Homo sapiens: one gene and its partners. The protein of the gene in region 7 purifies or fractionates together with the protein of the main gene of each other region. This does not show direct contact. Each region holds a gene or a part of one and is shown on either strand. Other genes may lie near its edges. The genes, in order: ZNF146, COL14A1, VPS4B, TEX15, SLC25A16, UXS1 and SPOCK2.

The links.
Region 1: the proteins of SPOCK2 (region 7) and ZNF146 purify together in Homo sapiens (affinity purification with mass spectrometry; one large-scale study listed by BioGRID and IntAct). This does not show direct contact.
Region 2: the proteins of SPOCK2 (region 7) and COL14A1 purify together in Homo sapiens (affinity purification with mass spectrometry; one large-scale study listed by BioGRID and IntAct). This does not show direct contact.
Region 3: the proteins of SPOCK2 (region 7) and VPS4B purify together in Homo sapiens (affinity purification with mass spectrometry; one large-scale study listed by BioGRID and IntAct). This does not show direct contact.
Region 4: the proteins of SPOCK2 (region 7) and TEX15 purify together in Homo sapiens (affinity purification with mass spectrometry, with the first as the bait; one large-scale study listed by BioGRID). This does not show direct contact.
Region 5: the proteins of SPOCK2 (region 7) and SLC25A16 purify together in Homo sapiens (affinity purification with mass spectrometry; one large-scale study listed by BioGRID and IntAct). This does not show direct contact.
Region 6: the proteins of SPOCK2 (region 7) and UXS1 purify together in Homo sapiens (affinity purification with mass spectrometry; one large-scale study listed by BioGRID and IntAct). This does not show direct contact.

Annotation. Positions count from the first base shown.
Region 1 is NC_000019.10:36,220,978-36,225,657, reverse strand, and holds part of ZNF146 (zinc finger protein OZF), read right to left. Parts: intron 1-4,680.
Region 2 is NC_000008.11:120,365,670-120,370,349, reverse strand, and holds part of COL14A1 (collagen alpha-1(XIV) chain isoform 1 precursor), read right to left. Parts: intron 3,180-4,680; coding exon 3,102-3,179; intron 1,021-3,101; coding exon 865-1,020; intron 15-864; coding exon of another isoform or gene 1-14. UniProt on the Homo sapiens protein: Plays an adhesive role by integrating collagen bundles. It is probably associated with the surface of interstitial collagen fibrils via COL1.
Region 3 is NC_000018.10:63,388,180-63,392,146, forward strand, and holds the end of VPS4B (vacuolar protein sorting-associated protein 4B), read right to left. Parts: intron 2,898-3,967; coding exon 2,796-2,897; 3' UTR 1,011-2,795; downstream 1-1,010.
Region 4 is NC_000008.11:30,902,605-30,907,284, forward strand, and holds part of TEX15 (testis-expressed protein 15), read right to left. Parts: intron 1-4,680.
Region 5 is NC_000010.11:68,482,524-68,486,023, forward strand, and holds part of SLC25A16 (solute carrier family 25 member 16), read right to left. Parts: intron 1,094-3,500; coding exon of another isoform or gene 1,066-1,093; coding exon 909-1,065; 3' UTR 1-908. UniProt on the Homo sapiens protein: May be involved in the transport of coenzyme A in the mitochondrial matrix. Very little is known about the physiological function of this carrier.
Region 6 is NC_000002.12:106,096,261-106,100,940, reverse strand, and holds part of UXS1 (UDP-glucuronic acid decarboxylase 1), read left to right. Parts: intron 1-2,167; coding exon 2,168-2,225; intron 2,226-4,119; coding exon 4,120-4,223; intron 4,224-4,680. UniProt on the Homo sapiens protein: Catalyzes the NAD-dependent decarboxylation of UDP-glucuronic acid to UDP-xylose. Necessary for the biosynthesis of the core tetrasaccharide in glycosaminoglycan biosynthesis.
Region 7 is NC_000010.11:72,085,003-72,090,163, forward strand, and holds the start of SPOCK2 (testican-2 isoform 2 precursor), read right to left. Parts: upstream 3,550-5,161; 5' UTR 3,327-3,549; coding exon 3,138-3,326; intron 1,991-3,137; coding exon of another isoform or gene 1,946-1,990; exon of another isoform or gene 1,224-1,945; intron 1-1,223. UniProt on the Homo sapiens protein: May participate in diverse steps of neurogenesis. Binds calcium.

The DNA of each region.
Region 1 (4,680 bases), on a different chromosome or scaffold from region 7:
AAGACCAGCGTGCTTAGCACTAAAAAAAAATACAAAAAAACTAGCCAGGTATGGTGGTATGCACCTGTAGTCCCAGCTACTTGACAGGCTGAGACAAAAGGACTGCTTGAGCCTAGGAGGTTGAGGTTGCAGTGAGCCAGAAAAAAAAAAGTAAGAATCACAAAGCAGATGAAAACTGAAACATAACAAAATGAACTTAAGACACAAAACTTTTAAGAAGGAAGCAAAGCTATAAATAGACCACAAAAGATAAACAGAGGAAATGAGTAAAGAAACAGTCACCCAAAAGAAGGGAATCGACAGAAAACAGAAGAATAGGAATAGACATCTTATTTTTGTCCCATTTGATTTTTTGTTTAAGGATGCAATAACGAAATTTTGAGGGATTGTTGTTTCCTCAATCAACAGATTTTCCCTGGTTGTTGCACCTTGGCTATTAGCAGTGTCCTCAGTCTTTCTGCTCACACTCCCACTGACCCAGGCAGCATGGGTAATCTATATTTATATAATCATAATCTGTATCTGACCACAAAAGCCAGTATCTTATCTAATGTAAAAACACTGAAAAGCAAATCATGATAATAAAAGTAATAGAAAAACACTGAAGGCATTTCTATTAGATTCTAAACAGACAAGGATGCCTACTGCCTCAATTATATAATCTAATTACAAATAACTAAGGAAAGCAGGGAATAATATTAGTATGTAGAAATCAACAGCTTCATATATGCCAACAATGACTCCATTCATAGCAACATAAAACAAAACATCCAGAAATAAACTTAGTAAGAAGTGTCCAAACCTGTATGAAAAAAATTTTAAAACACCCTAGAGGACCCAAAAAGAAACGAGAATACGTATCACGTACATAAAGAGGAATATTTAATGTCATAAAAATGTCCCTATTCCCAAGTTATTTTATAAATTTAATGCAATCCCAATAAAAGTAACAAACTAGTTCTACCTTTTCCCCCTCTGGAACGAGACAAGCTAATCCTAAAATTTACAAAGAAAAATAAACAGGCAAGAATAGCCAGGAAACACTGAAAAGGACGAGCAATTAAGAGACTAGCTATACCACAAAGTAAAACACAATGATAAAGCCTCAATAGTAAAAAGATAAATATTTTCCCTGGTTGTTACACCTGGGCTATAGCAGTGTCCTCAGTCTTTCTGCTCACACCCAGAAACAGACCAAATAAATGTGAGAATTTAGTATATAATCAAAGTGGCATCCTAAAAATAGTAAACATAAGACCTTTTTTTAATGTGTGTGAGATGGAGTTTGGCTCTTGTTGCCCAGGCTGCAGTGCAGTGGCACAATCTCAGCTCACTGCAACCTCCGCCCTCCTATGTTCAAGCGATTCTCCTGTCTCAGCCTCCGAATAGCTGGGATTCAGGCATGTGCCACCACACCCAGCTAATGTTTTGTATTTTTAGTAGAGACAGGGTTTCTCCATATTGGCCAGGCTGGTCTCGAACTCCTGACCTCAAGTGATCCACCCACCTTGGCCTTGCAAAGTGCTGGGATTGCAGGCGTGAGCCACCGTGCCCAGCCAGGTAAGACCTTTTAATAAATGATGTCAAAGAACGTGGTAGCCAATTGGAAAAAGGTAAAGCTGGATGCATATCTGATAGCATACACCAGGATAAAATCTAAATGGATTATAAATTAAAATAAAAACAAAATCTTAAAAAAACTATTGCTCTGACTTGGGAAGCCAAGGTAGCAGGATCACTTGGGCCCAGGAGTTTGAGACCAGCCTGGGCAACACAGGGAGATCTTATCTCTACAATTTTTTTTTTTTTAAATTAGCGAGGATATGAAGGCTGCAGTCAGCTGTGATCACGCCACTGCACCCCAGCCTGGGTGACAGATCAAGATCCAACTCTAAAACAATCAAACAACAAAAAACTGTAACTTTATAAGAATTTGAAAATATCGGTGAAACTTAAGAGTGGAAAAGTCTGATAACCATAAAAGACTGATGAATCAGCCACGCGCGGTGGCTCACGCCTGTAATCCCAGCACTTTGGAGGGCCGAGGCGGGCGGATCACGAGGTCAGGAGATCGAGACCATCCTGGCTAACATGGTGAAACCCCGTCTCTACTAAAAATACGAAAAAATTAACCAGGCGTGGTGGCATGCGCCTGTAGTCCCAGCTACTTGGGAGGCTGAGGCAGGAGAATGGCGTGAACCCGGGAGGCGGAGCTTGCAGTGAGCCGAAATCGCACCACTGCATTCCAGCCTGGGGGACGGAGAGATACTCCATCTCAAAAAGAAAAAAATGTAACTAGATTTTTTTTTTTTTTTGAGACGGAGTCTCACTCTGTTGCCCAGGCTAAAGTGCAGTGGTGTGATCTCGTGCACCACAATGACTGGCTAAATTTTTTGTATTTTTAGTAGAGACGGGGTTTCACCATGTTGACCGGGCTAGTCTCAAACTCCTGACCTCAAGTGATCTACCCGCCTCAGCCTCCCAAAGTGCTGGGATTACAGGCGTGAGCCATCGCGCCCAGCCAAAAGTTTTGAAAATAAAAAGAAAACCATAGCAGCATGGTGGTGCACTGCCTGTAGTCCCCGCTACTTGGGAGTCTGAGACTTGCTTGGGCCCAGGGGTTCAAGGCCAGCCTGTGCAACACAGTGAGACTGTGCCTCTAAAAAATACATGAATAAAAAGGTCTTTGGTGTGGTGCGGGGATGTCTCTGTGCTCACCAACCACAGGGGGCTCATTCTAAGCACGGCTATGTAAAAAAAGAAACTATTATTACTAAATTAAAACAAAACCTCTTATTTCTGCAAGATTAAAAAAAAAAGAAACCACTGTGAACAATGTCCAAATGCAAATGAAAACTTCAAAAAAAAAAAAAAAAAAAGCCACCACTCATTTCATACAGGGCTAACCTTTCTAATTTATAAACAGCTCCTCTAAGGAGAAGACACCCCATAGAAAAATGGTGAAAAGGATATGAATAGACAGTTCCTAGATTAATACATACAGGCCTTTAAACATATAAAAAAAAATTCTCATTCATAAGAAGGGATGTAAATGAAACCTACACTGAAGTTCAGATTGTCTCTTATGTCCCTAGCGAAATACCAAATATTCGACACTACACTCATGGTGAGTTTAAGGGGAAGACGCTCTCGCACATGGCTTGTGGGAGTGTAAGTACTTACCCACTGGGCAGCGCCATTTGTATTAATAGCAGTCTAGTTTAGAGCTACTCCTGTGTCAGTATAAAATGGCGCACATAAAAAAATTATTCATTACTGCATTGTTAGCAACAGCAGAAGACTGGAAACAATCCAAATGCTCAACAACGGGATTAACTGAATCAACCATGGTGCATCCAAATAATGACATCTTATTTATACAGCAGCTGAAAAAAAAATTTCTTTTAAAGATTATGATTAAGAAGGAACACCTTGGCTGGGTGCAGTGGCTCACACTTGTAATCCCAACACTTTGGGAAGCCAAGAGAGGAGGACTGCTTGAGCTCAGGAGTTCGAGACCAATCTGGGAAACAGTGAGACCTCATCTCTACAAAAAGTAAAAAAGCCAGGTGTGGTGGAGTGTGCCTGTGGTCCCAGCTACACAGGCGGCTGAGGCAGGAAGATCACTTCAGCCCAGCAGTTGGAGGCTGCAGTATGCCATGTTAACACCATTGCACACCAGCTTGGGTGACAGAGCGAGACTATTTCAAAAAAAAAAAAAAAAAAAAAAGAAAGAAAAAAGGAAGGGCTATCTCTAGGACATACTGTTATTAAAGAAAGTGAGATATAGGGAGGTGCATGTGGTATGCTATCTTTTATGTAAGGTGGAGGGAAACAGGAGTGAAGAGAAATATATAATAGTGACAGAACAAAAAACAAAAAACCCACTTGAAGGATAAACAAGAAGCAAACAAAAAAAAACAAGACATGTTTACATAAGACAAAGAAGAATGTGACTGGGGGAAGGGAGCAGAATGAGATATCTCTGTGAGATAGATCTTTGTTGAATCACAGAAATGCATTACTTACTTCAATAGTAATCAAATTCATTTTTTAAAAAGTAGTGCCTTGGCCAGGCACGGTGGCTCAAGCCTGTAATCCCAGTACTTTGGGAGGCTGATGCGGGTGGATCACGAGGTCAGGAGATCAAGATCATCCTGGCTAACATGGTGAAACCTCGTCTCTACTAAAAATACAAAAAATTAGCCGGGCGTGGTGGCTGACACCTATAGTCCCAGCTACTCGGGAGGCTGAGGCAGAAGAATGGCGTGAACCCGGGAGGCGGAGCTTGCAGTGAGCCGAGATTGCGCCACTGCACTCCAGCCTAGGGGACAGAGTGAGACTCCGTCTCAAAAAAAAAAAAAAAAAAAAAAGCAGTCCCTTAACCTGAAAACAACAAATGAACCCAACTGTATGTTAATTTAGTAACATAATTCCTCAGAAAAACGATTTCAAATGACTTTAGAACAGAGTTCTTTGACTACATACATCTTTAGTGAGATGCATTTTAAAAGCTGGGCTCAGTGGCTCATGCCTGAAATCCCAGCACTTTGGGAGGCCAAGACGAGTAGGAAGTCAGGAGTTCGAGACCAGCCTGGCCAACATGGTGAAACGCTGTCTCTACTAGAAATACAAAAATTAGCTAGGCGTCATGGTGGGCACCTGTAATCCCAGCTACTC
Region 2 (4,680 bases), on a different chromosome or scaffold from region 7:
GTAGGGGATCAGATCTTAATAAGGATAGGAGTATTTGAGAGAACAGGGAGGGAAAAGATGAACAGAGAAAAACACATCAGCAAAACTTTGTTGACCAATTCCTGTGATAACTAAGGTTAAATTTCTACTGAAGCAGAAAATTTTAAACCCATTAACTAGTAAGTTCATGGCCCCACAGCAGTCCCTCAGCCTCTCCCTTGATGCTTCCAAGAGTGACTATGTCAGAAAAGGGGCCATTGCACAGCACGCCAGCATGCACACTGCAGATGTTTTAGGAAGCATATTCTTTTAGTCCAGTAGCTAGTGATAAGACAAGGACAGCATGATTTTTGTTTCCTCTCACAACTATTCTTGGTCACCTAAAATGTGGTGCTTAAATGCACCTAAATGCAAGTGGTATGCATGATTTCATTGAAAATAATCTAAGGAGCCCTCTTAATTACGGGAGAAGTTCTAAGTTTGACATTTCCCCAAACCAAGAGTAAAATTTTATGGGACGTCTTGGCCACATCACAGCTGTCACATAAGAATGGAGACTCCAAAAGAATGTTCAACCATGTCCTCCAAATGTGCTAAATACAAAGTCAGAGGCCAAGTCTATGTAGGTCATCACTGGGAAGCAAGGAAGACTTAGATGTGCTGTTATTTTGAATTTGCTCTTAAGGTTTTTAAGGGAGTAGCCTCTATAGCAATTTGCACTTTATAGAAAATGTCTCGGGATAATTTAAGGAAGTGAGGCATTCAAGCTCTGCTTCCCATTCATAACCAATTTAACTTTTTTCATAGCACTATCTTCCCATTTTGGTACTAAGCATACTAAAACATTGATCAAAGCCCACAAGCGGGGCTTTTTGTGACACTTACCTCTCACACCATAGGCAGAACATGATGAGGGGTCACAATATCCAGGCTGGCCAGAAGGACCTTGGGGTCCAGGAACCCCCAGATGACCTGGTGGGCCTCTTGGTCCAGGAGAGCCAGGGGGCCCAGGGCTGCCAGGCCGACTCTCCCCTGAAGGTCCTAAGAAGTACCCACAGATGAAAACCGTTGGTCTTTTGCCACAACAGGGTGAGTTTTGAGACAACCAAGAAGTAAACTAACTCTTAGAAGAAGCAACTTTTAGGACAATTAGGACAACCTCTTTCTACTCATTGAGTTCTTTTTTGTAGACTGGATTCCCTAGGCAGAGGGTCATAGTGTAATCACTTATCCTCCTGGAGGTCAATGCTCTCAATCAGCTCAGGAAACTGGCAAGCAAAATGCATCTTTTCTATTTCCTCTTGGATGTTAAAGGGAAAGGAACCTTCCATTATCAACCTTATTTTCTTTTTGGAGCTTTTGTTTCCCAATGCAGTTCCTTATGAATCCAATCTATGGGCGTGCACACACACAGACACAAACATGAACACACTCAGAGCTCAACCTCATCATCTAGTTAGAATAGCCATGCAATTCAGTACCAGTTTATGGCCCCAGATAATTAAAGCTCAACCTCATCAACAGTTAGAATAGCCATGTAATTCAGTACTGGTTTATGGCCCTAGATAATTAAAGTAAATTTGTATGAGTGTGAAATTGTCCTGGAGGGGACCAATGACAAGTTTGACATTCGACCCAATATACTAATCCAAAATTTCTTTAAGCTAGTTTACATTAATTGAGAATTCAGACTGAGTAAAAATAGGAGGATTAAAACTGTTGTGAATTGAAGAAATTTGTCAGCATGTTTTTTTTTTTTTTTTTGGCTTGTATGCTTGTTTTTAGGTCCGGGTTCCAACAGTGTTGAAAAGGCATTCTTCAACTATAATGGAATTTCTCAACTAGAACTGAAATGAAAAGTAGGAACAAGTATCACCTTCTATTTGAATAGCGTGGTGGCTCTCATATATTCAGCTCCTCAATCAGCACTCACCAACCACCCATTCTGTGTAATGTGTAATGTTATATCAGTTCCTCACATTGTCTCTAATAACAGAAATATTTACACTCAAAATGAATTGCATTAGGAACCTCTCTCAGAAAAAGTATTTTCCAAAATCCTTACTAGATTGGAAAGAAAAATCTGTAAAGCACTTTACTTAATGTGGCTAAGACTGACATTATAAATATATATTATAATAAGATTGCAAATTATAATAATTCTAATATCAAGCCTGATCATCTGGAGACCATTCTAAAAGCATATAATACACAAAACTCAAAACTTTTACAGAACTCATTCAGTAAGATTACCATGGCAGGAAATACTAGTGCTCACCAAATAGCCCTGTATTTCTCTAAATTTTGTGTCTGCCTTGCAGTTCAGTTGGGGCTAGGTGATTAGTTCCAGACAATAAAATGTGAATGGAAGTGACATCTCATTCTGTTTAGGAAGTTGAGACCGGTGTGCCTTCTTTTTTTTTTTTCGAGACAGGGTCTCCCTCTGTCACCCAGGCTGGAGGGCAGTGGCACCATCACGGTTCACTGTAGCCTCAACCTCCAGAGCTCATGTGATCCTCTGTTTCAGCCTCTCAAGTAGCTGGGACTACAAGCACATGCCACCACGCCTGGTTAAATTTTTGTATTTTTTTTTTTTTGGTAGAAATGGGGTTTCGTCACATTGCCCAGGCTGGTCTCAAACTCTTGGCCTCAAGTGATCCTCTTGCCTCAGCTTCCCAAAACGCTGGGCTTACAGGAGTGAGCCACCGCACCCAGCCCGATGTGCCTTCTTTTTCTTTCTCTTGGAGGCTACATGATTCACCATGGAGGTCATGGGTTCTGAGATGGAAGAGAGCTACCTTATTCATATGAAACTTTGTGTGATTGTGAAATAAAGCTTTATTGTGTAAATCCACTAAGCATTTGGGATGTATTTGTTACTATAGCATAGTCTGTCCTATCGCAACTCACACAAACAATAAGATCCCAGAATATGCTCTAACTTTTTGGTCTTGTATATTGGGAGGATCCTTATTAACAAAGAAGCCTCCCAATAAAACAAGTAAGAAATACAGCCATTTAAGTTACATACTAGGATGTAAGATGACCATTTTCCTCACTTGCAATGCCAAGTGAATATAAAAATATACATTTGCAGTCTCTTGTTAGGAAGGAAGATTTACCTGCTGGTCCAGGGGGGCCTCTTGGACCTTGGGTTCCAACGCCTGGATTTCCTTTTTCTCCTTTGATACCAGTTAGACCTGTTTAAAATAATTTTTAAAAATGTTTAAAGTTCTTTTTAAAAGAAAATCTTGGTAGTTCCATTTTTCTGGAGTTCGAAAGTGCTTCTCTGATGAAGACAATTAAGTGGGTTCGTTTGGGGTTATGAGTACCATGGGACTTTTAAATTACATTCTGACATTGGTAGTATATGTAGAATCACATGTTGAAGTCTGGTTCTGTATTTGAGTGTGTGGTCTGTATTTGCTATTCTGCCAGTCTCTCTTTCTCCTTCCTACTGAAGTCACACAGCCTGCCAAGAACTGGTCCTTGTCTTTGCACGCACCAGGCCACTGGACTTATGCAGCTGGCACTCCACAAGTAACACAATAGAAATCACAAGTGAACACGTCTAACATTTTCCTTTTGGTCCACTCTGTAATGTGTCTGCAAAAGGCATGAATTGTAATTAGGCAGCAACATTCTGAAGAGCGTGAGTTTCCATTAAAACTTGGAAGCTTCAGAAAAGCCTGTGTTTGATTTGGCTGATTCAGCCCCATAAAAATCTAAATCTATTCATGTTTCTTTTCCATGGAGCAGACCTCTTATAATTTACAGTGCTATTAACAAACTATACATTTTCACAGGCAAACAACAAAGAAACATATACTCTGACACCTCATTATCTAAACAGGTCCTATCACAAGATCACTTGAAAGGTGAGAGCGCCTATATTGAGGCCCAAGATACGGTTGCATTAGACTGGGGTCTGGGTTACCCTGGCTTACATCATAGAAGATCTTTGCTGTCTGTTTTTTTGTGTACAACAATGCTTTGAAATAGCAGCATGCAGAACAGCATCTCTGTTTAATTATACCTACTGAGAAATTATGTTGAATTGGCAAAGCCTAGAAGGAAACATCAATAAGTGAAAAATGGCCAATTTGACAGGTAGCAGGCATGGAAAGGCCTTGCAATTTTTTAAAATTGCAAATAACTATTTGTTTACTTTAAATATAATGCATATTCACTGTCAACAAATTAGATGTAACAAGCAAGATGCTAGCACTTGAAAATAATCACTTTTAACATCTTAGTTTATAACTTCCAGAAAGAAAAGTGTTGATGTAGTATTTGTTCTGGAAATCACTGGTAAAGAAGACTCCGGTGAGGAACTAACAGGTTTTGGTTTTTTGTTTTTACACTGCACATATAATGGTTGTTCCTAACCTGCAGCTTTGGTATCTTTTGTGCTCCCCGTAATGATCTCTTGCAGTCAAGACATAGCCTGGCATCTCTTTTAAAAAGCTCTTCTTCTTTACTAGGAGTCATCCAGGTTGGTCTACTCATTGCTAGAATTCCCAAACACCCAATCCTATTGCATGTCACCTTGATGGTGCTATCTGAGCTTACAAAAGACCAGTATCTCCATGACAGCCCAGGGCACAAACCACCATGCCTGTGACTTTCTGTTCAGTGCCTGGTTCTTCTCTTAGGAGCCCATAAGGAAAACAATGATTTCTCAAAAGTAAAAATACCATC
Region 3 (3,967 bases), on a different chromosome or scaffold from region 7:
ATCATAACTTCACTAGACCAGTAAGAACAAAGCCACTTTATAAACTTACCTATTTTATAAGTCTCTCACATAATCCATGAGGTAGATCAAAATAAAAATATAACTCCCTTTTTTTTTCCCCAAGTCTTTACTAAGTACCTAAAAGCACTCAACACTATATTAATTGCTGGGGAAAATGTAACTCTCAGAACTTACAATCTAAATGATCTAAACATGATCAATAGAACATGCTCCAGAGAAAAATCTTAACACAGCAGCAGCAGCAATTTAACTGCTAAAGAAACCCAAAAGTAGGGTGGGGGTAGTTTGGGTGGTCTTCCTGCAAGAGGTTACATGGTTCATCATCATTAGGTTTTAATGGAAATACGTGATGTGGACTAGCAAAAAAAAGAAAGATACCATATTAAAATAAGAGGAGGATACAAATGAAGGGATGAAAGTAGGAAAGAAAAGGGCACCTGTGAAAACTCACAAACTTAAAATAACATTAGTGTCAACAATGGGCACTGTGTTGCTTCACTTGCAACATACAGCACCATCAGGTAGGTATGCCTCTTTATCAACTCTGAAAGTGGCTAAATGGTGCTTCTGTGGCACTAATCAAGTACACTCATTCTGTTTTTCTGCATGTAGTTGACAGTGGACTCAGAAGTCAATTCTCTATTGACATGTTTTATAATTATAGAGTCCTTATAGATTTCTCAGGGTGAGACAAAATGCTTTCAAATATCCAGGGTGTAAGTCATAGAGATGCTTAACAACTATGATCTACTTGCTGGCTCAGAAAATGTCTACCTAAACTTTATAATTACTGGTCAAGAGCCAGAGAAATAGAACATGCCCATTCGGATTCCTTTGAGTATCTGTCCATAAAGAACACACAGCAGTACTGTATAATTCTGAGGCTGATAAACAGGTAAGATGTATAAATTATCTTATCCACAAAGAATTCAGTGTTAGTTTACTAAGTTAGTTCTCAATCCTCACATAAAAGTCATTGAAAAACAGAATTTTCATATATACATTAATAATTTTAATGATTTCTTTGTATCTAACCAATTTAGGTAATATTTTCTTTTACACAGAAGGTCCCAAAATAAAGAATAATACACAGAATACAGTCAATAGGTTATATCAATTTACTTCACATAAGAGCATAATTCAGGCCTTTTCCATTTAATAACAAAAACAATCTGTACAGAAAACCCAAAGGCAACCACATAGCATATGTAAAATGTGCAAATACACTTTAAAATGCAAGTTATTCTATAGCATTTGCAAGATAGAATTTCACTGTAATTAGGGAATCTAGTTCATCCTAACTTAATAGTCTTTTGCATGTATAGACAATGCAATTCTACAAGGCACAACTCAGCGTTGATGCTAAAGTATGAAACACATCCTCAGATTATTTATTTGAAAATATTAAAATAGCATCGTTTATTATTTTTTAATGAGTCATGAGCTCATTTCTAAAGCTTCATAAAGCATTACACTGATAACATATGTGTGGTCAGGACAAACTGTTCCCTGAACTTAAAAGGTGAAGGACAAGACCCCATATTATTATCCTGTATTAAAAAAGGAAATATACATATATGTACACAGACACCCCATATCACAGACAAGAAACTTCCCATAATTCAAAGGGAGACCATTTCCTTATTAGCAAAGGTGCGCATTACAGTATTTCATGACAGTTAAAAATTACACACCTACCACCTGTTTTGGTCAATCTTGCTAAAAAAGACACTGAAATAGACAATTTTCTTCTTTAAGGTAAAGACAATGTCTAATTTAGAAAATCTTCCTCTTGAGATTGCACAGTGAAAGGTATCAGTTAATTAAATATAAAAGCTTACCGTTTTTGTTTTTTTTTGAGACAGAGTTTTATTCAGTCGCCCAGGCTGGAGTGCAATGGCGCTATCTCGGCGCCCAGGCTGGAATGCAGTAGCGCGATCTCAGCTCACTGCAACCTCTGCCTCCCAGGTTCAAGTGATTCTCCCGCCTCAGCCTCCTGAGTAGCTGGGATTACAGACACTCGCCATCATGCCCAGCTAATTTTTGTATTTTTAGTAGAGACGGCATTTCACCATGTTGGCCAGACTGGTCTTGAACTCCTGACCTCAGGTGATCCACCCATCGTAGCCTCCCAAAGTGCTGGGATTACAGGCATAAGCCACCATGCCCAGCCAAAGCTTACGCTTTTAAAGAAATTATTTAAATCTACACAGAAAAAAATATCAACTTATTAAAAACTATTAAGAGCACTGTCTATAATTCAAAATCTTTCAAACCCAATCACAAAGCTCTTTGCTGTTTTATTGCCCATCCCTGAGTAAAGATTCTATCATTTGTAATTTTTTAATAACGTAAATTTTACATTGATAAGAATGATGTTTAACAATTTTTTTGAAAATATAAAATAAACCCTATATCATTTTAGTAAAAAAAAAAGAAAATATAAATGCTCTTTGCAAAGACCACCATTCATAAAAATTGTAAATATTTGTATGTCAATTTCTGACATCCTTTTTACTGGGTAATTTCTGTTTTTATGCCGTTCATATATCGCTCATTTCCTCATAACCTGTTATTTTGTACCTTTTGTTAATAGGAGTATTTAATAAGTAATGGAGGAAAAGTACAATATAAAACCTAATGGAACTCTGAAGTGAGATGTGTATTTCCCTGTGGTAAAAGAGTTTTACTGGAAACAATTAATGCGATCCAAATAGACAAAAATATCTATGAAAGAAAGAATACATATGGTAAGCATCTTCCTTGTCTTTGGCTTAGCCTTCTTGACCAAAATCTTCTGTAAACTTCTTTAATTTCAACAAGTCATGTTCATTGACTGTAGGTTTTGTGTTAGATAGTGACCGCAACATATCCGACTGTCAGGGAAAAAGAAGGGTAGGGAGGATATTAATAATAGAGTTAACAAAATAAAAAACCGTCATATTATCATTATTGCTATGAACTTTAACCTAAGTTTAAATATGAATATTTGCAGTCTGCCATAAGATACTAACGATAAACTCCCTATTCTTTTTTTTTTTTTTTGAGTTGGAGTCTCACTCTGTTGGCTCAGGCTGGAGCGCAGTGGCGTGATCTTGGCTCATTGCAACCTCTGCCTCCCAGGTTCAAGAGATTCTCCTGCCTCAGCCTCCCAAGTAGCTGGGATTACAGGCACCTGAAACCACACCTGGCTAATTTTTGTATTTTTAGTAGAGATGGGGTTTCGTTTTGTTGGTCAGGCTGGTCTCGAACCCCTGACCTCAGGTGATCCGCCTGCCTCTGCCTTGCGAAGTGCTGGGATTACAGGCGTGGGCCCCTGCACCCGGCCCCTATTCTTTCACAGATCTTTCATGATCTTTGATCATGTTATTCCTTTGTGTAGAAACGTATACTTTCTTCCCCTGAACTGATCAAATGGCTCCCCAATACTTATCAGAAGGACAATCCCCTTAGTCTGAGGATCAAGGCCTCCAAAGTATGTTCATGATCTAATTTCTGGCCTTATCTCTTTTTCTTAAACGAGATCAATTTTCCAAGTCAGTATAATTCAAAAGGAAAATATCATTCACTTACACTTAAGTGAAGCAGAATACCATTCTATGAAAAATCTACTAACCAGAATTTTAAAATAATTAGTTACAATTAAGATCGAAATGGTTAGAAAAATATGCTAATATCAGAGATTCATTAAAAAACTAACTTCTAAGCCTAGACTCCTGTAAAAGGATATGAAAAATAATGAAAAGGACCACTCTAAGTTACTAAAAATTCTTCAAAGCTGAACAAAGTACAAAAAATAAAAAATAATACACCAAGGATTAAAACAAAGGGGTTTCTGAGTAACTTCTCAGATAAGCATTATGGTTAGTTCACACACAAATATATGGGTGTATACACATTTACATGTATATCTATGTACCGTGTAAAAGTTTCTCCTCTGGAAGTT
Region 4 (4,680 bases), on a different chromosome or scaffold from region 7:
TAGTGAAGTAACAGACCAGCAAAGCAAAAAACTATGGTTCATCCTTGATGATCAAAGGGATTGGTGATTCTCCAACTTCAGTGTGTATCAGAATCACCTAGAGGGCTTATTAAAATACAGATTACTGGGTCCCACCTCCAGAGTTTCTAATTCTGTATGTTTAAGGCCCAAGAATTTTTATTTCTCATAAATTCCCAGGTGACATTGATAGTGAAGAGAAACGACAGTTTGAGAACCACCAATCTAGGTGATGAAGCACAGTAGAATTTAAGTATTCCAGGAAGGAAATGTCTGAGGATTACCAGTACATTTCTCAAGGTGTTCATATTTATTGCACAGACTTTGTCTGTTGCCCCTCAGGGAAAAGGCAAGAGAGGGATTATGCTTTTAAACTATGTGGTTAAACTATTTTATTTTGATAATGCATATTACATAGTCTATGTTGAATCAACCAACCTCCATTATGAAGGGTTTCCCAAACTAGAAGCCAAAACTGGCACTCAAAGATTTCCATGATTTTGTGATGACTCAAATTATAATCTTGTTTTAATGACCTATGCTGTATGGATGTATTTCTCTAAAAATTTGGGGCAGGCTCTCCTCTAGGTCCAAGGAGGATCCTGTATCTATCTAATTATATAGTCAAATGAGAGCAGACTTAAAAATAATTTACATGTTTAAAAGACTGTCCCAAGAGCCCAGGCTATGGGGAGGAGTACTTCCAGTCCAGCTGCTTTTCATCACGGGGAAAAATCAAAGTTAAGGGGCCCCCAGGGGTTAGGACTCCCTTGGTTTCTTTCCCTTTGGAGTCTAGGAGCTGCAGTACAAACAGATTGAGTTCCACAAAAAGGCCAAGGTCATCCTGGTTGCAGAGAAAGGTGAGAAACAGCTCAACTTTTCACTCAATCCTTCAGTCCTAGTCCTTCCTTCAGCTTTCTCAAAAAGGACATATTCTGACTGGCTTGACTGAAATAGACCCACTCTACCATAAAGTAAGCTAGCACAGGATAACTTGCATCTTATTCCACCAGGAAGATTACCTGGATTACCTATCCTTCTACAAATCAGCATTCTTTTTTCAGCCCAAGCATTAAATATAACAAATGCCATCCTCTGTGTTACTGATAGCGAAAAACTGAGAATGGCAAAAAAGTCACCACTTTGCCTGCTTAAAGCCACTTGTCTTCCCTATGCAGATATAAACAGAGAGATAATTACCTTGCCAAGGTCCTTGAAATCAGATATGGTGTTAGAAGGGTATGAAATATGGAAGATGACTGTGCTAATAGGTTGTGAAAGATGAGGACAGATCAATCATGTACAACCCCAAACTGAGTGTATTCTCTGCTCAAACAGATGGAAATTATATGCAAAAGAAGTTGGGAATTGTCATAAAAGCACAGGGATTAGTTACTAATCTATTATGGTTATGAGGCTTTTTAAAAGACATTAGGGAAATACAAAGAAATAATCAGATGATTAAAGATAATGACACAACTTTCAAGGGAATTAATAACTACAAGTCTTGGAAAGGAAATAATAATAAAACGACCTTATTTAGGCTGGGCTCAGTGGCTCACGCCTGTAATCCCACCACTTTGGGAGGCTCAGGTGGGTGGATCAACTGAGGTCAGGAGTTTGAGACCAGCCTGGCCAACACGGGGAAACCCCATCTCTACCAAAAATATAAAAACTAGCCGGGTGTGGTGGTGGGCGCCTGTAATCCCAGCTACTTAGGAAGCTGAGGCAGGAGAATTGCTTGAATCCAGGAGATGGAGGTTGCAGTGAGCCAACATGGTGCCACTTCACTCCAGCCTTGGTGACAGAGTGAGACTCCGTCTCAAAAAAAAAAAAAAAAAAGGACCTTATTTAAACCCTGAAATTGGTCATAACTAAATATTCACACAATTCATTTTGATTAATGTAGGAAAATAGCTATATAGGTAATACATTTTTAACTAGAAATTCATAAATTTCTAACTAGGATTGACCAATACTGAATCAACTTTTCCTCCCCCTGTGAGTTGTTTTCCGGTTAAAAACCACAAGTATTCCTCAGCTTCTCTTTCAATGTCAATGAGGTGTGCATGACGTCATCTTGCATATAAAATATTCCTCCCATTTTAAAACATTAAACTATCTTTCTGTGTTAATTCAAAGAAGTCAACAGCTTTATTTTCCACATTTTAGTATGAAAAACATAGCTGCTGACCATTATTCACCTTTTATGATCTGCTGAACCTAAAATTAAAAAAATGTATTACTTGATAAGGTTAAAACAAGTTATCTAATACTGTAATGGAGTTATGCCCAGAAAAACACTAATACACAATTATAAATTTCTAAATGTATCTAATTATACATCTTTCTCATGAAAGAGTTCACTTACACATTTTCTTTAGGTACTTACATTAAATGTGGGGGTAACAAAGCTAACAACTAGCAATTCATGTGCCTTCTTACTAATGTCCCTATCAAGAATGAATTTTAATATAACTTGTCTACTTCTAACATTCATTTTAAGATTCTACCTGACTTTAGTAACAAACAGGCTTCTCAAAAATTCTTCAGAAACTGTTTGATCGTGCAATGTCAAAGTACTGCAACAAACCTGGTGGGAATTATACCAAATAGACCAACTGAAGACTTAAAAAGACTTCAAAAAAAAAAAAAAAACTGTAGGCAAAAGTTGAATATTATTGAGTCCCCAGGAGAAATAAACTGGAGTACTGGTCATAGCATTCTAGGCAGAGAATGAACTCTTGGGATGCTGCTATTCCTTTGTCAGACTAAAAATTTTAGTCCTACTTTTGAATTGTCATATTAAATACCAGATCACCAAAATAGAGTAATTTTCAGACTGCAAATTTGTACCAAGCAAAAAATTTTCCTCTAAAAAATTTAGCATAATTCAGATAGATTATTTTTAAGAGAAAATTATTTGACTTATTCACGCCATGGATAAGAGATAATATTTTTGGTGGCAGTTTGGTGAAGCCAGACCACCTGGTCTGTGGCTCACGCCTATAATCCCAGCATTTTGGGAGGCTGAGGCCGGTGGATCACTTGAGCTCAGGAGTTCAAGACCAGCCTGGGCAACATGGCGAAAACCTGTCTTTACAAAAAATACAAAAAAAAAAAAAAAAAAAAAAAAGGCTGGGCATGGTGGCACACCTGTATTCCCAGCTGCTCGGGATGCTGAGGTGGGAGGATTGCTTGAGCTCAGAAGGTGGCTGTTGCAATGAGCCTTGTGATCATGCCACTGCACTCCAGCCTGGGTGAGAGTGACACCCTGTCTCAAAAAACAAAACAAACAAGAAAACCCCCAAAACCCAAATTTTATCTGCCCCTTACTGACTGCAACGCTAGACCCATTACCTATACTTTTGTGCCTCAGTTTCTTCATACGTAAAATGGGAAAAAAATAACAGTATTTAGTAGATTAATTCAGTTAATCAACACTCTTCTGCTATATTGATTACTACAACACACAGAACAGTGACTCATTTATGGTAAAGCGCTATATAAGTATTGGCTATTATTATTAATGTATGTTTAATCAAATAAAGAGGCATAATATTTTAATCCTCACAGTTTAATGTTAATCATCTAACATTCCTCCATTCTTCTTCAAATAGTTATATTATTTATTGACCTGGGAAGTCTTTGTTTCTGTTTTAGCCTTAAAAGAGAACAAGCAGCTGGGCGCAGTGGCTCACGCCTGTAATCCCAGCACTTTGGAAGGCTGAAGTGGGAGGATCATGAGGTCAGGAGATCAAGACCATCTTGGCTAACATGGTGAAACCCCATCTCTACTAAAAATACAAAAAAAAAAATTAGCCTGGTGTGGTGGCAGGCACCTGTAATCCCAGCTACTCAGGAGGCTGAGGCAGGAGAGTGATGTGAACCCGGGAGGCGGAGCTTGTGGTGAGCCGAGATTGTGCCACTGCACTCCAGCCTGGGTGACAGAGCAAGACTCCATCTCAAAAGAAAAAAAAAAAAAAAAAGAGAGAGAGAACAAGCATATATTAAAGTGCTTGTATTTGTACCTTGGATAAGCAGGCATGTAATACCTTAGGAAAAACTAAAACACTAGGTTTAACTGCTGGGAATAGGCTTGAAAGACCCATGAAAAAGACAATATTGCAGAAGACAGTCAACCAAAATAATTTATAAGCAGATTTTCCCATTTTACGTATGAAAATTTTCCATTTTACATATGAAAAAACCAAGGCACAGAAAGACACTAGGTTTAATTGATTAGCATGGGCTTGAAAGACACAAAAAATTGCATTTTCTAGAGAGAAAAATGGATTTGAGGAACTTAAAACAATTTTTTTTTCTTTTGCTGTTCACTTAAGCTGATTCTTACTCCTTGGCCAAATGTGACTTTATATAAAACATACCATACAGATGTAAAGGTTGTATAAATCTTCGTAAGAATACCATTCTAAACTCAAAGAGTTTATAGACTTTCCTAACCACCATTGCCCTATGTAATTATACCACTGAAGAATTTGTTGTTGATTTAATAAAAGCTTTTTCCTTATTTAGAGACAAGATCTTGCTGTGTTGCCAAGGCTGGAGGGTGGAGTGCAGTGGTGCAATCATGGCTCATTGTGTGCCTGACAGCATCACAAGAGTCAAGTTCATTTCTCTGCCTAGAATGCTGTGATCAGT
Region 5 (3,500 bases), 3.6 Mb from region 7:
GTCTACTTAAATATTCTACTATAGAGCAAATCATCTAACAAAAACAAATCTATAGTGTTACTTTTTTTTTAAGAGCAAAGATATTCAGTATTTTTATTTCTGCCTCTGGGAAACACACTGACATTTTAAAACACATGTAAGTCACTCATAGTACCTCATAATAACATTTGAGCAAGACTTAGTCGTTCATTCATTTATTAAGTGGGGTTTCATGATGTTGCATAGGCTGGCATGGAATTCCAGGGCTCAAGTGATCCTCTCACCTCAGCTTCCAGAGTAGCTGGGACCACATGCCCATCCCACCATGTCCAGCTTCTTCATTTATTTTTGTGTCTCTACATGGCTACCTTTTAAATACAACATTAATTTTATTTAAAAAATGAAGGAAAGAAGTGTTTTTCCTATTATCCAGTGGAGCATAATTGTGAGAAGAGAGATAACAAAAATAAAATGTCAATGCTGGCTGTTTCATAGAACTTAAAAATTCAATTCTCATTATTCTATTGCAATATAACCAACCCTGTTTATTTTAATAATAATAAACACTGTCAGTCTTTTAAAAACCATGATAACAATTAAAAACTTTGAACAGCATGACAAAGCTAATGGCAACCTCTTGAACCCCGTTTTAAAGCTAGTTCTACTTCCAAATAAAACTTTAAAGCGGTTTAGCCAGCATCAGCTTAGGAATATTTTCTTCAATGTTCTAAGGTATAATGTTTGGCATCAAAAAGTATGGTAAGCAGTTCTGATTTGTGACTAAAGAAAAAATAATCAAGTACTAAAATACCAGTGGCTCTTGTGACAGGGTAAATATCCCCATTCAAGTAATGTTCCCCCCACAATTATAGTAATGTTTCATTTCTCCCTCTGAGAATGTATTAAGAAAAACCAACCATAATTTTTTTTTAGTTGAGGTGAAAAAACTGCTTCATAAGTTCGTATGTTGTAAAAGCCACTGCTTGAGAGGGAATACAGCGAATGTAATTAAGAGATAAACCACGATAGAGTCCTTTTCGAATTCCATGGTGTCCATAGACATACTTCATAGTATCCCGCATGGTACTGAAAGACAATGATTAAATGATGACCTCTATGCCCACTCATGAAGAAACAATTTCAGGATCCATAATATCAATTTTGTTTTTTTGAGATGGACTCTTGCTCTGTCACCCAGATGGGAGTGTGGATTGCAGTGGCATGATCTTGGCTCACTGCAGCCTCTGCCTCCCAGGTTCAAGTGATTCTCCTGCTTCAGTCTCCTGAGTAGCTGGGATTACAGGCACGCGCCACCATGCCCAGCTAATTTTTGTAATTTTTAGTAGAGACGGGGTTTCTCCATGTTGCCCAGGCCAGTCTCAAACTCCTGACCTCAGGTGATCCACCCACCTTGGCCTCCCAAAGTGCTGGGATTACAGACATAAGCCACCTCGCTCGGCCCATAATATTAATTTTTAAAGAAGGTTAAATGCCATCTTGAATAGCTTTAGAAAGACAAATGTTTTAACAAGTGAAAATTTTTTCATAATAAAAAGGCAAGTCATTCTAAACAAGTACAAGCATTATGCATCAAATTTCAGGACTCATTAGTACAACATATTTTGTTTGTACTATGTCTATGACATTTACTGGACAACAACTATTTCATACTTATATTTGAAATACTAATGCAATCCTTTTAAAGGATGTATATCCAGTTGCCCTTTAAGCCTTTATTATAGCTCAAGTTGTATAGTATCAACAGCAGGTGGTTATAGAACTAAAGCTTGAAGGACTATCTTTCAGATTTCAGCAATGAACACTTTCCTGTTTCAGAGTTGTTCCTTTCCTTTCAAACCAATAATTTGGGCTTGGGCTTTCCCTTTCAATAGGCAATCTGGACCGAAATCTTTTCAAAAATCTTTTTTTTTTTTTTTTTTTAAGAGACAGGTTCTCACTCTGTTGCCTAGGCTGGAGTGCAGTGGCAATCATAGCTCACAACAGCCTCCAACTCCTGGGCACAAGCAATCCTCCCACCTCAGCCTCTTCAGTAGCTGAGACTACAGGCACACACCACCATGCCTCACTAAATTTTTTGTTTGTTTGTTTTTAGTTAAAAAAAATTTTTTTAGAGCCAAGGTCTTACAATGTTTTCCAAGCTGATCTCAAACTCCTGGCCTCAAGTGAACCTCCCACCTCAGCCTCTCAAGTAGCTGGATACAACAAGCACAGGGTAATGCTCCCAGCCCAAAAAATCTTTTGGGTGAACACGGCAATCCAAATTCATGAACAAATGTTCTGCTCTTCCCCTGAGAGACAACATATCACCAATCAAATGGAATGGTTCTAAATTACTATAAAGAAAACTCTGGAGCTGTGCTATACAATCACAGCAGCCACTAGCCACATATGGCTATTAAGCACTTGAAATGTGGCAGTCCAAATCAAGACGTGCTGTGAGTGTAAAATACACCCTGGATTTCAAATAGTTTGTATTTAAAAAAAAGAAACAAAATAATGAAATGTTGAGGTGATAAAAGTTTAGGTTAAACAAAAAATATTTTTAACAATTATATATATATTTTTTCTTCTTTTTCTTTTCTTTTTTATTGACACGCAGCCTCGCTGCCAGGCTGGAGTGCAGTAGCACGATCTCGGCTCACTGCAACCTCCGTCTCCTGGGCTCAAGTGATTCTTGTGCCTCAGCTTCCAGAGTATCTGGGACTACAGGCGCACACCGCCACACCCAGCTAATTTTTTTGTATTTTTAGTAGAGATGGGGTTTCACCATGTTGACCAGGATGGTCTTGATCTCCTGACCTTGTGATCCTCCCGCGTCAGCCTCCCAAAGTGCTGGGATTACAGGTGTGAGCCACCGCGTCCCAGCCCTTTTTCTTTTTTAGACAGAGTCTCGCTCTGTCGCCCAGGCTGGAGTGCAGTGGCATGATCTTGGCTAACTGCAACCTCCGCCTCCCAGGTTCAAGCAATTCCCTGCCTCAGCCTCCTGAGTAGCTGGTATGACAGGCACCTGCCACCAGCCCAGCTAATTTTTTTTGTATTTTTAGTAGAGACAGGTTTCACCATCTTGGCCAGGTTGGTCTTGAACTCCTGACCTCATGATCCACCCACCTCTGCCTCCCAAAGTGCTGGGATTATAGGCGTGAGCCACTGCGACAGGCCTTTTTTGTTTTTTTCAGAGTCTCACTCTGTCACCTAGGCTGGAGTACAGTGGCGCCATCTCAGCTCTTTGCCTCCTGGGTTCAAGCAATTATCGTGCCTCAGCCTCCTAAGCAATATTTTTTTTTTTTTTTTTGAGATGGAGTCTCACTCTATCGCCCAGGCTGGAGTGCAGTGGTGCGATCTCGGCTCACTGCAAGCTCCGCCTCCTGGGTTCACACGATTCTCCTGCCTCAGCCTCCCGAGTAGCTGGGACTACAGGTGCCTGCCACCACACCCGGCTAATTTTTTGTATTTTTACTAGAGACGGGATTTCACCATGTTAGCCAGGAGTACCAGACCAG
Region 6 (4,680 bases), on a different chromosome or scaffold from region 7:
TTGTTGCTTGCTAAATACTAGAGGAAAAACAAACAAACACAAAGTAAGAGTATACAAAGAAGTAAAACATCTGCAAGGCACGGGTGAGTGATGTAATCAGTCCCTCCACCTTCTGAAGGGCCTGGGTCTAAGATTGTGTGAAGCCTTTTGGTGGTAGTAGGTGGACGTGTGTGTGCATCTCGTTCTCTATTTAACAGGCGGGTCATCATTATAAGGCCTGATTGCATTTTTAGAAGATGGAGGTTGTTCAGAGGGAAAATTTTCCGGTTGCTGATGATGTCTGTCATTTAGCCGGACAGACCACCTTCATGGCTTCTCGCCTTCCCTGCATGCCTGCCCACAGCCCCAGAACCTCCCTGTTGGAGGGATCATCCAGCCTTGAGCAGTTTCAGTGCTGGTGAACTTGCTTCTGCTCAGAGAAATTCACCCTGTCTTTGGACAGTTCTGGCCGGCAGAAAGCTCTTCCTCATATTGGACCAGAAATCTCACTTTCTGCACACCTGTCCACTGACCTCACTTCTCCACCTGGGGCCATTCATGGCTAGTGTGATGCCTCTACAGTGTGGTAACTCTCCAAGGATTTGAAGGAGATGGTCCTACCCCCTAAGCTGCCTCCTCCTTGGTGCATCAGCCAAGGTCATGGTAGGACCTCTTACCCTTTCTGTCACTGAGTGATTTTCTGAGCAGTTTTGTTCCATCTCATTTAAAATGCAAGGTTTCCAATGTGGACTGTCCAGCATTCAAGATGTTCTGCTTCTGTTGATGGCAGTGGACACAAGAACCTCTTAGCTCACAGAGACCTCCCCCTTAACCCTACCTTGGGGTCATTTCAGGTGCTTCTCCCAAATTACCTCTCCTGGTTCCTACACAACACTCTAAAGTTCAGGGAACTCTAAAATGTTGGCCATGTGACCTATTTCTTGCAAACCATGTCACCTTTGCTTATGCATGTCTTTGTAACCAGCCATCTCAAATACATTGCAGACCATGCATTTTTCCCTGAGGTGAAAGGGAATTCTCATCACGTAGGAAAGAATTGCCCTGGAGTGCTGACTCCATTCTGGGACTGTTGCTGATTCATGGGTACAGTGTGCCACTTTTGAAAAAAATTCACTTAAAACAGACCAGAACGTGCCTCACACTGTAAGCCTCATTTTGCTTGCAGCATTTGCCTGTGTACACTGGAGAGGCCCGAGGCGCCCCTGCTCTGCGTTTTTGTTGCAGGTTCTTTAGCAAGGGTGTTGTCAGTGACTTCCCTGGGCAGCCAGGCTCTTCTCTGTAGATACCATGTTCCTCCTTCCCTCTTTGGGGAGGGCCTTTGCACAGGGACAATTCCTAAAATTGGAATCGTGTGTCTGCCAGGAGAAAGGCAGAATCACTTTCTTGCAAATTTCCGTCACTCCACTTCGCTAGTCATCCCCTCTGTGCTCCATTGAGGCCCAGGGTCTCTCCCTCCACATTTACCATCTAGCTTCAGGCTAACCGAGGACCTGGGCATGAAGAGGCTTTAGGGTATAGAATTATCAGACTTTATGGTGGTCTCTTATGATGAGGGCAGTGGTGGCAGAGTAAGAGTAACAGGTGCTCTGATGTGTGATGGGAGGGAGAAAAAGAGCAAATGGTTTTCCTTAAAGCCCCCACACAAGTATTCTCTCTTCATGAAATGCATGGAGTTTGTCCTCTGGCTTGCCGGGGACACTCGCCTGTGAGCCTACTCATTTCTGCCTTAGCTTTTGGGTGTGAGATTACAAGTCCTTCATCACTGACATGGTTAACACAGCTCACCCAGACGGGAATAGATAGTGTTAGGAGAGCTAATTTTGTAAACCCAAGCTTTTATAAAAGTGACATTGAAGTTATGTTAGATATGGAAATTGTCTGATACTCAGTGAGTGTGTGCCTTCATCAGAAACTCTTGACCTATCCAAAGCCCAGCCTTGTACACAGCAGCCTAGAGGCTGAAGGTATAGATGGTGCAGTTTAGCACTGCCAGGTGAGTAACTGTCATCTTGGAAGCGGAGTACCCTCTGGCACACGGAGCTCTGCTGAAGCAGCGCAGGGAGGTCAGACTCGGCCAGTAGACGTCTCTGCAGACACGCCTGTGGTCTGGGTGGTGGATTGCTGCTGTTGTCATGACGCTTATAACTGGAAACCGTTTCTTTCTTAGGGGAACCCAGAAGAACACACAATCCTAGAATTTGCTCAGTTAATTAAAAACCTTGTTGGTAAGTAGGATAAGTCATTTCCTGAGTAAAATCGACTGTGCCTGCCCTATCTGTTAATAACACCTTGACTAGAAAGTGGGTAATTAATACAAGCTAATTGAATTGGATCAAAGCAGAACTTTTTATCAGGAATACTTAAGTGTTTTCTAATTTTTAAGGAATAGAAAGATAAAGGAGGGCAGGATTGGTTTCTCCTCAGTTTTCGTTGCAGGTTTGCATGAAGTGGGAGGGAGGAGGAGATTTGCTCCCAGTGTTTGAGGCACGATTGTATTAGATCATCCTACATGGGTGACAACTATTGGATTTCCGAACTGGTCATGTCAAGCATAGAATTTCAGACAGCAAGAGACAGCAACCACCAGCTGCGTGCTTCAGGCAGGTTTGAAATTCTGTTTGCAATTCTGGTTATCCTGGCTGCCACCCACTGGGGGCAGTGTAGCATTGGGAGCACCCCATCAAGGTGGACTCTTAGGCCATGAGAAGGTCAGGTCTTCCAGACCAGCCCTGGATTGCAGACATAGAGTGGATGAGCCCTTGGCCTCATCTTCAGACTTCCTGGAGCTCTGAGGAGTCAGACTCTTGGAGGGTGTCTGTTGTCTGGGGTTGATCCTGAAATTTGAGTGAAGTCACAACCAGACTAGACTGGCAGGTAGGCCAAGGAGGAGTATGCCACAGTGTGTCCTGAGGTGACCATTCAGACCCCGCTTGGCTGGGTTAATTCCTCCAGTGTGCCCTTCCTGGCATCAGGCTGCCATTCATCGGCATTGGTCTAATCGACCCGGATGGCTGGAATCCTCCCGTTGCTCGTGGCAGTAGAAGCAGCGGTCTTCCTCAGACATAGCCTGCATCATCTGTGGCTCCCACAGCTGCTCCGATGCACTTCCCAGCTTTTCCATCCTGAATCTGTGTGTTCCTCCTGCGTGAGGAAGGGGCAGGCTCAGATCACAGCTCTGTGCCATCCACTCCTTCACACCCTCACTGCACAGAGTGAGGCCCGTGGGCCAACGCAGCAGCAGCATCATCAGATGTGTGTTAGAAATTCAGACTCTCATGCCCTAGCCCAGGCCCCCAGATCAGGATCTGCCTGTTGACAGGCTCTTCAGGTGATCCGTGCGTGCTGACGCTTGAGAAACACTATTTGAAACCTAAGGCTGGGGGGAGGGGCGTGCAGCTTCCCTGCTGTGCTTCTGTATATAGCTTTGTGACAGACCATCCTGAACCACCTGTGGTGGTGATTCGCTGCAGAGTCTGCAATGTGGCCTCCATGACACGGAGGCAGGGAAAGCCTCCACAGGCTTTCTTCTGCAGGTCTGGCCCACAGTCACTGGTGGGGCTGTGTACTGCTGGCCAGTGGGGCCTGGGCCCAGCAAGGATGTGGAACAGGCCAGCCTTTGCCGTCCTCCGAGAGGTCCCTCCAGCTGGGTGGCTGCACATCTTGGGTCTCAGGGCTGTCTAGGCTCCGAGCACCCAGGTATGGCCCACTTGGGGCATCCACCTCAGGGATGGCCCCACACCACGTTTGTGGTCTCACACCGGGGTCATGCTCGGTGGGCACGTCTGCACTTGTTACCTGGTGTGGGTGGTCTGCCTTGGAGCAACCCTCTTGTAGTGGGCGGTAACTCAGGCCTGTTGAGACAGAATAACCTGCCCCCCACCGAGCTCTTGCTGGGCGCCTGCACACAGTCAGCTTGGCCACAGCAGTTGCAGGAGCACTCCCTGGACTTCCACGCAGAACAGTCCCTCGGGAGCTCCGGGGCTTCTCAGAGAACTGCATTTCCACCGCCTGCACCCTATTCACACCACATATGGGGTTTGCCTTTGATGTGGATGGTAAGGCTGTGCTTACCCATGCTTTGTGATTCTCTCCTACCTTTTTTTTCTTTAAACATCTCAGGTAGCGGAAGTGAAATTCAGTTTCTCTCCGAAGCCCAGGATGACCCACAGAAAAGAAAACCAGACATCAAAAAAGCAAAGCTGATGCTGGGGTGGGAGCCCGTGGTAAGTGCAGGGAGTTAATGCTGCCTTGTGGGGAGGGGCCTCCCGTGTCCTGTGTCTGCTGTCCTGTAGGCACTGACCCTTGTCAGACAGCCCCCGGAGGAGCAAGGTGGGCTCGGCATCCAGGCAGATAGAGGGTTTTCTCCAAGTGGTAAACAGCCTCTCCTGTATCAGGAGTCTCAGAGAATGTTACCTGGGAAGCGGCTGGAAGCCCCTGCTCTGGGCTCTGTTTTCGTAAAATCTCTCATGCACACACACATTCTTACATTCTCTCATACACATACACTGCCATACAAACACTTGTACACACATATACTCACACTGTCTCCCACACACTCACACTGTCATATATACACTGTCATACAAACACACTTAATACAAGTATACTCACACACACTCATTTTCACACATACATATACATTCACACTATCATACACATTCTCACATTCACTCACATGCG
Region 7 (5,161 bases):
GAAGAAAGAGAACAGTCAGCTCTTCGTAGCCAAGCTCTGTGGAGCCTGCCCTGAAGAATGCTGTATAATGGACCTGTCTCCTCCAAGTGTCCATCCCTCTAGGCCCTAGATGCTTTGTTCCAAAGACCTGCATTAAATTCCACCCAGTTGTGCAGGGAGTGAATTGGGAGGTAGGAGCATCGAAGAGCAGGGCTTGGAAAAGCCCAGGACTGCCCAGGGCAGGGTACAGCTAGATCTGTAGGCCAGGGAGCCAGGCGGAGTCCACAATCTCCCCCGTCTTCTGCCAGAATCCCCTCCTCCCTGGCAGCCGGGCACCCAGCATTAGAAGAGATCGACCCAGGCACAGGCTGTAAGAGCCCTCAGCCCACTGGAGGGGAGGATTACTCAACTGGTAAATCCTGCCTTCCCTATAATCCTAGTGCTCAGAGAAAGATGCTAAGCTGCGCTCCCTCTCAACCAGCTCTGGCCAATTCCAAAGTGGAGCAACTCCCCAAGTTTTCATGCTCTTCTTCATTCTCCTGACCCTTTCAACCTGATTCCCTCAAGTTCCCCCTTCAGTTCTGTCCACACCATGTGAATGAGGCATTTCCCTCCCAATCCTGTTCCCCAAGAGTATCCCACTCGTCCTGCTTGCCTCCACCCTACTAGGACAAATAGGGGGGCCCTGTACCATTTTGGGGTTATGAACAAGGTCCCAGTTCAACCTTGTAACCCCTTAAGGGGTTCAAACGAAATTCCCCTCTCTCCTTTGAGGAACCAAGGAGCATATTTTCCAAAGAGCTGGCCTAATGGAAATATAAAGCCCGTTGCTACTGGGCCCAGTTAGAGTGCCTTCAGCCCTTAGGCAGGAAGTAGGGCTTCTTCTGGCAGAAGAGGGATATGTTTGTAGTGCTGGTGGGGACCCTGTGTACTGTCTGGGCACTGCACAACTTCAGGGGGCACCATTTCTATTGTGGCACCCCTAGAGTTATGCAATGCAGTGGCTCTGAGCTAGCAGCCTCCTTCCTGCCTTTCTGCAGAGGCTGTCAACAGATCCCCAGGGCCAGGCCCTCTTGCCCAGCCTTCTTTGTCCTACTTCTCTCCCTGACCCTGTCCTCCTGCAGCCAGGACTACCTTAAATGGGGTTTTAGAGGACATCTGTCCTACAAAAGCCTGAGGCTACCAAAATCAACACACACCTAAAGCTTTCCCATGAATCTTACATGTGCAAGTCCTGAAGACTTTCAAATCTAGTGCCTTTCTTCTGATGAGCATGAGAGGAAGGGGGAAGTGGTTGGCACCAATACAGAGAGACAGGTGGGTAGCCCAGTGCCATGGGGTCAAGCAGTAAGTCATTTATTCTCACCCACGGAGCTGGCTATTGGAAGCAGGTGGAAGAAGGGAGGTGGGGAGGAATCTTTTATTTTAAACCTTTCCTGTTCTGATTAAGCATTTCTTTTCCCTCTGACCTTCACTGGTCCCATTTTGGCAGATCAAACAGCCAGCGAGTCGGAGGGAGGCCTAGGCCAGTGACACATGGATTCCGGATGGGCCGGCCTGCTGCCGCCCCCTCGCTGCTGTGGCCGGGCTGCTGCCCAGGAAGCGGCAGGAGACTGCGGCTCATCTGCGCTGGGCCTGCAGGTGCTTCGGGAAGGCCTCGCGGGGCTCCAGGCTCCTGCGGCTGGACAGGTCGCATGTGGGGCGAAGGCGGAGATCAGCAGCCCATCGCGGGGCCCGGCCACTCAGCCTGGAGACCTGGCTGCCCGTGGTTCCTGCTGTCCTCTGTGAATTACAACCTGCCAGTTTGACTTTGGGGAGAAACAGTCACTTGTCTGACGGTAACAAAAAGATCCAAATCTCTGCCTCTTCCCATCACTTGGCTGGATAGCCTATGAAGCATGTGTGTTTTAAACAAATTTCCAAGGAACTTGTGGATGCACGCAGTTTAAGGAGAAAACGGGAGAGGTCATGGTGTGGCCTGCGTTGTACTGGGTGGGTCGGACGAGGGAACCTGGGGAAGGAGGAGTAAGGGCCAGGGTCCTAGAAGAGGTTTTCTGGGGTCAGGGCCGCGGTGAGCACCAGGTCGCCAGGAGCAGCCGGCGTCGCCTCTGGCGCATCCGGGCCCATCCCCCACAGCACCCCCAACGATCTCGGGGTCCAGCCACACCCTCCGCCCGCCCTGCCTCACCCCTGCTTCCCCAGCCCCCAACCCGGCCCGGCCGAGAGGAAGGAGCCAGCCCCGCCGGGCCGCCGCCTGCGACTTCCCCTCTGATCCACAGGTGCCGGTAAACAAAAGTGCCGCAGCTACCCCCCCGCCCCCACCCCGCGGAGTTCGGCCCAAGGTTACGCCGGGGTTCGGGCGGCGCCCGCCGGGGGCCCCCAAACCCAGCTTCTGGACTCTCCCCGGCTTCTCAAGCCCACCGGGCCGGGAGCCTTCCTCTGGCTCCGAGCTGCTCCCCTCGCTCCAGGCTGGATTCCCCCCTGAAATGTTGGTCCGGGAAAACCAGCCTGGGTCCTCGCGCGCCCTTCTGCACGGGGACCCCAGCCCACCCCCGTACGGACACGCCTTCCACCATCTCGCCTAGAAGGCTGCTGGGACCCCAGACCCAGAGCCCCGGTCACACTCCCGTCCCATGCTGTCCCCCTCCCGCAAAGCCCACGGTGGGAACAGAGGGCACCGCGCGAGCCGATGCCACCCTCACTGCCGGCCCCACCCAGACCTGCCGGTGCTGCAGTGCCCCGTATGTGCAGCCTGCAGCATCCCAGCGGCTGGGGCAGGCCCGGGGGCGGCTCGCACAACGCAGCTGGGGACCGGGTCGGGGTCCAGCGGCAGCCGGGGTCCGGGTCCCCCCGGCCCCGCACCCCTTCCCACTCCCGGCCCGCAGGGGAGACCCCGGAGCGCGCGACCCCGGAGCGTCGGGCAGGTGTGGAGCTGGGGGTCCCGGGGCTGGGGGGTCCCAGGGCCGCCGGCCCGGGCCGCAGGGACAGGGGAGGGGCGCTGGGCTGTGACCCCCAGTACTGTTTACTTTCCGTGTAATTAGCCGGCCAGGCTGCGGAGCCTCGGGCTGCGACGTGCGGCGGCCGCTCCCGCAGACCCCGGAGCTCAATCCCCGAACCCGCAACCCCGGGTCTCTGCCTTGGCAGCCCTGCGGACTCACGTCTCGGAAGCGGTTCCAGTGCTTGATCTTGCCGCTGTACTGCGAGATGGACGACAGCCATTGCTCGTCCTCCATGAAATTGCCGGGGGTCTCGCCCTCCTTGAGCCCCTTGGCGTCGCCTTCGGCCAGGGCTGCCGCGGCCAGGAGCAGCAGCGGCAGCACCAGCCGCCCGCAGCCCGGGGCGCGCATCGTGGTCTGGGTTCGACCTGGGGGGGTCTTGACTTCTGCAGTATTTTAATGTCCTTCCTCCCACCCCGCTGCTGGCGAAGCGCACGCGGCTGTCCTCAGCTCTCCTCCCGCGGTCTGCCTCCGGTGACTGGCGGAGAGTGGGTCGCGGCTGAAATGTGACCTGGTTAGGAGATGCACTTGTCTGAAAAAGCCCAGCACTGGACGCGGAGAGGGAGAGAGAATCAGAGAGGCTGCGCCAGCAGGGGCTGTAACTGTAGCATCAGCATCACGTTTGACATCATCATACCTGGTTTAAAAAAAAAAAAAAAAAAGGAGTGGGTAGATTTCAAAGCGAAGCGCTCCCTCGATGAGAGCGCCAAACGCCAGCCAGCCGCAGCGGGGCCCAGCCCCGCCTGGCACACAGGGAGTTGCAGACCAAGAAATCCAGAATCCCGAAATGTCCCTGAGCTCCCTCAAAGGATGGAGAGCAAGAAGGGCCCCAGGATCTCCCCGGGGAAGATGGGATGGGGGAGAGGGCACAAAACTCTCCGGTTACAAAGCCAGCCAGGCTCAGGTGTCGGAAAGGGAATTTGGCCAGACACTGTTTTTCTCCCCTTGCCTCCCACCCAGAGGGGCCTGCGCCACAGCCCTGACAGCTGGCTTCCTGCGAGTTATGGCTCTACCGTAATGGGTGGCTTCGTTAAGACAAAAGCCGTATAACAACTGGCTGCTCAGAACCATTGCTCCCCAGCGGCACCGCGTTGCGCAAGGCAAGGCCTGAGCACTGAGTGGCTGGTGAAACAGAGGCAGATGTCCTCCTCCCCAGGCAGCTGTTTAGGGGCTGTCACCCGTTTTGTCAGCTCTTCCCAGGACAACCCTAAAAGGCAAATGTCTGACCATTTCATCTGCCTTGGAGGCTGCAAATTTGGAAAAGGCATATTTGCTTATGGTTTTTTGACTTCAAGTTAGTTTGAATAAGCCACTGGGGAAGCCGGGGAGTGGGGGGCTGGGGTGGGGTGCTGGTTTTGTTTGAGGTGTTTCGGGTTTTGTTGAAACTGCGACCCTCCTTATTGGCTGTAGATTTAAATGTTGACATACCAGCGGGGAAGGCTGGAGGCTGGCCACAGTCCCAAGAGCACAGCAGAAATGGGGACAGGTTTACATTACAAATACATTAAAGAGGAAACATCATCTGATGGGACAAAACCTAGTGAACTTTTGGGACCCAAGCCCTAGATTGTGTTTTTATAAAAAGACTTAGCTGCTGTGATCTAAAAATAAAATAAAAATTTAAAATGCTTTAAAAAACATAATCTTAATCAGTAGGAAAAAACATAGCTTACAAGGTTCCTTGTCACCCTGAATCTGGCCTATCTGGGAACTCTGAATGCCTCAGTGGCTCAGGCCGGAGTCTCGTTGGGAAAACAGAAAACAATAGCTCCCTTTCCATGTTTTCTTGTTTCCTTTGCTGTTGGATTTAGTGGTGGTGCTGCAGTGAGGCCCTGGCCATTGACGTCTTCATCTCACAGTAATAAAGCATTCTTCCTGGGTGTGTCCTGGCGCTGTACAGTGAGAGAGCACGGCTTGCTGTCGTGGAGACTAGAGGACAGAATCCCACTTACTGGCTGGATTCTTGAGCAATTACCTATTTTCTATCTAAAACTAATGGTAATACCATCATTAAAACTGCTGTAAAGTGCAAGCAAAATTACATACTAAGTGGGCATAATGGGCATTTTTTTAAAAAGTTAGTCTTTCCTCTGGTTGGGAAGAGAAGGCTACGGTGTCCCATAGTTCTGAAGATTCATCAAAATTTGCCATCTTTTCCACCATCTCAATCCTACAATCCTAGTTTT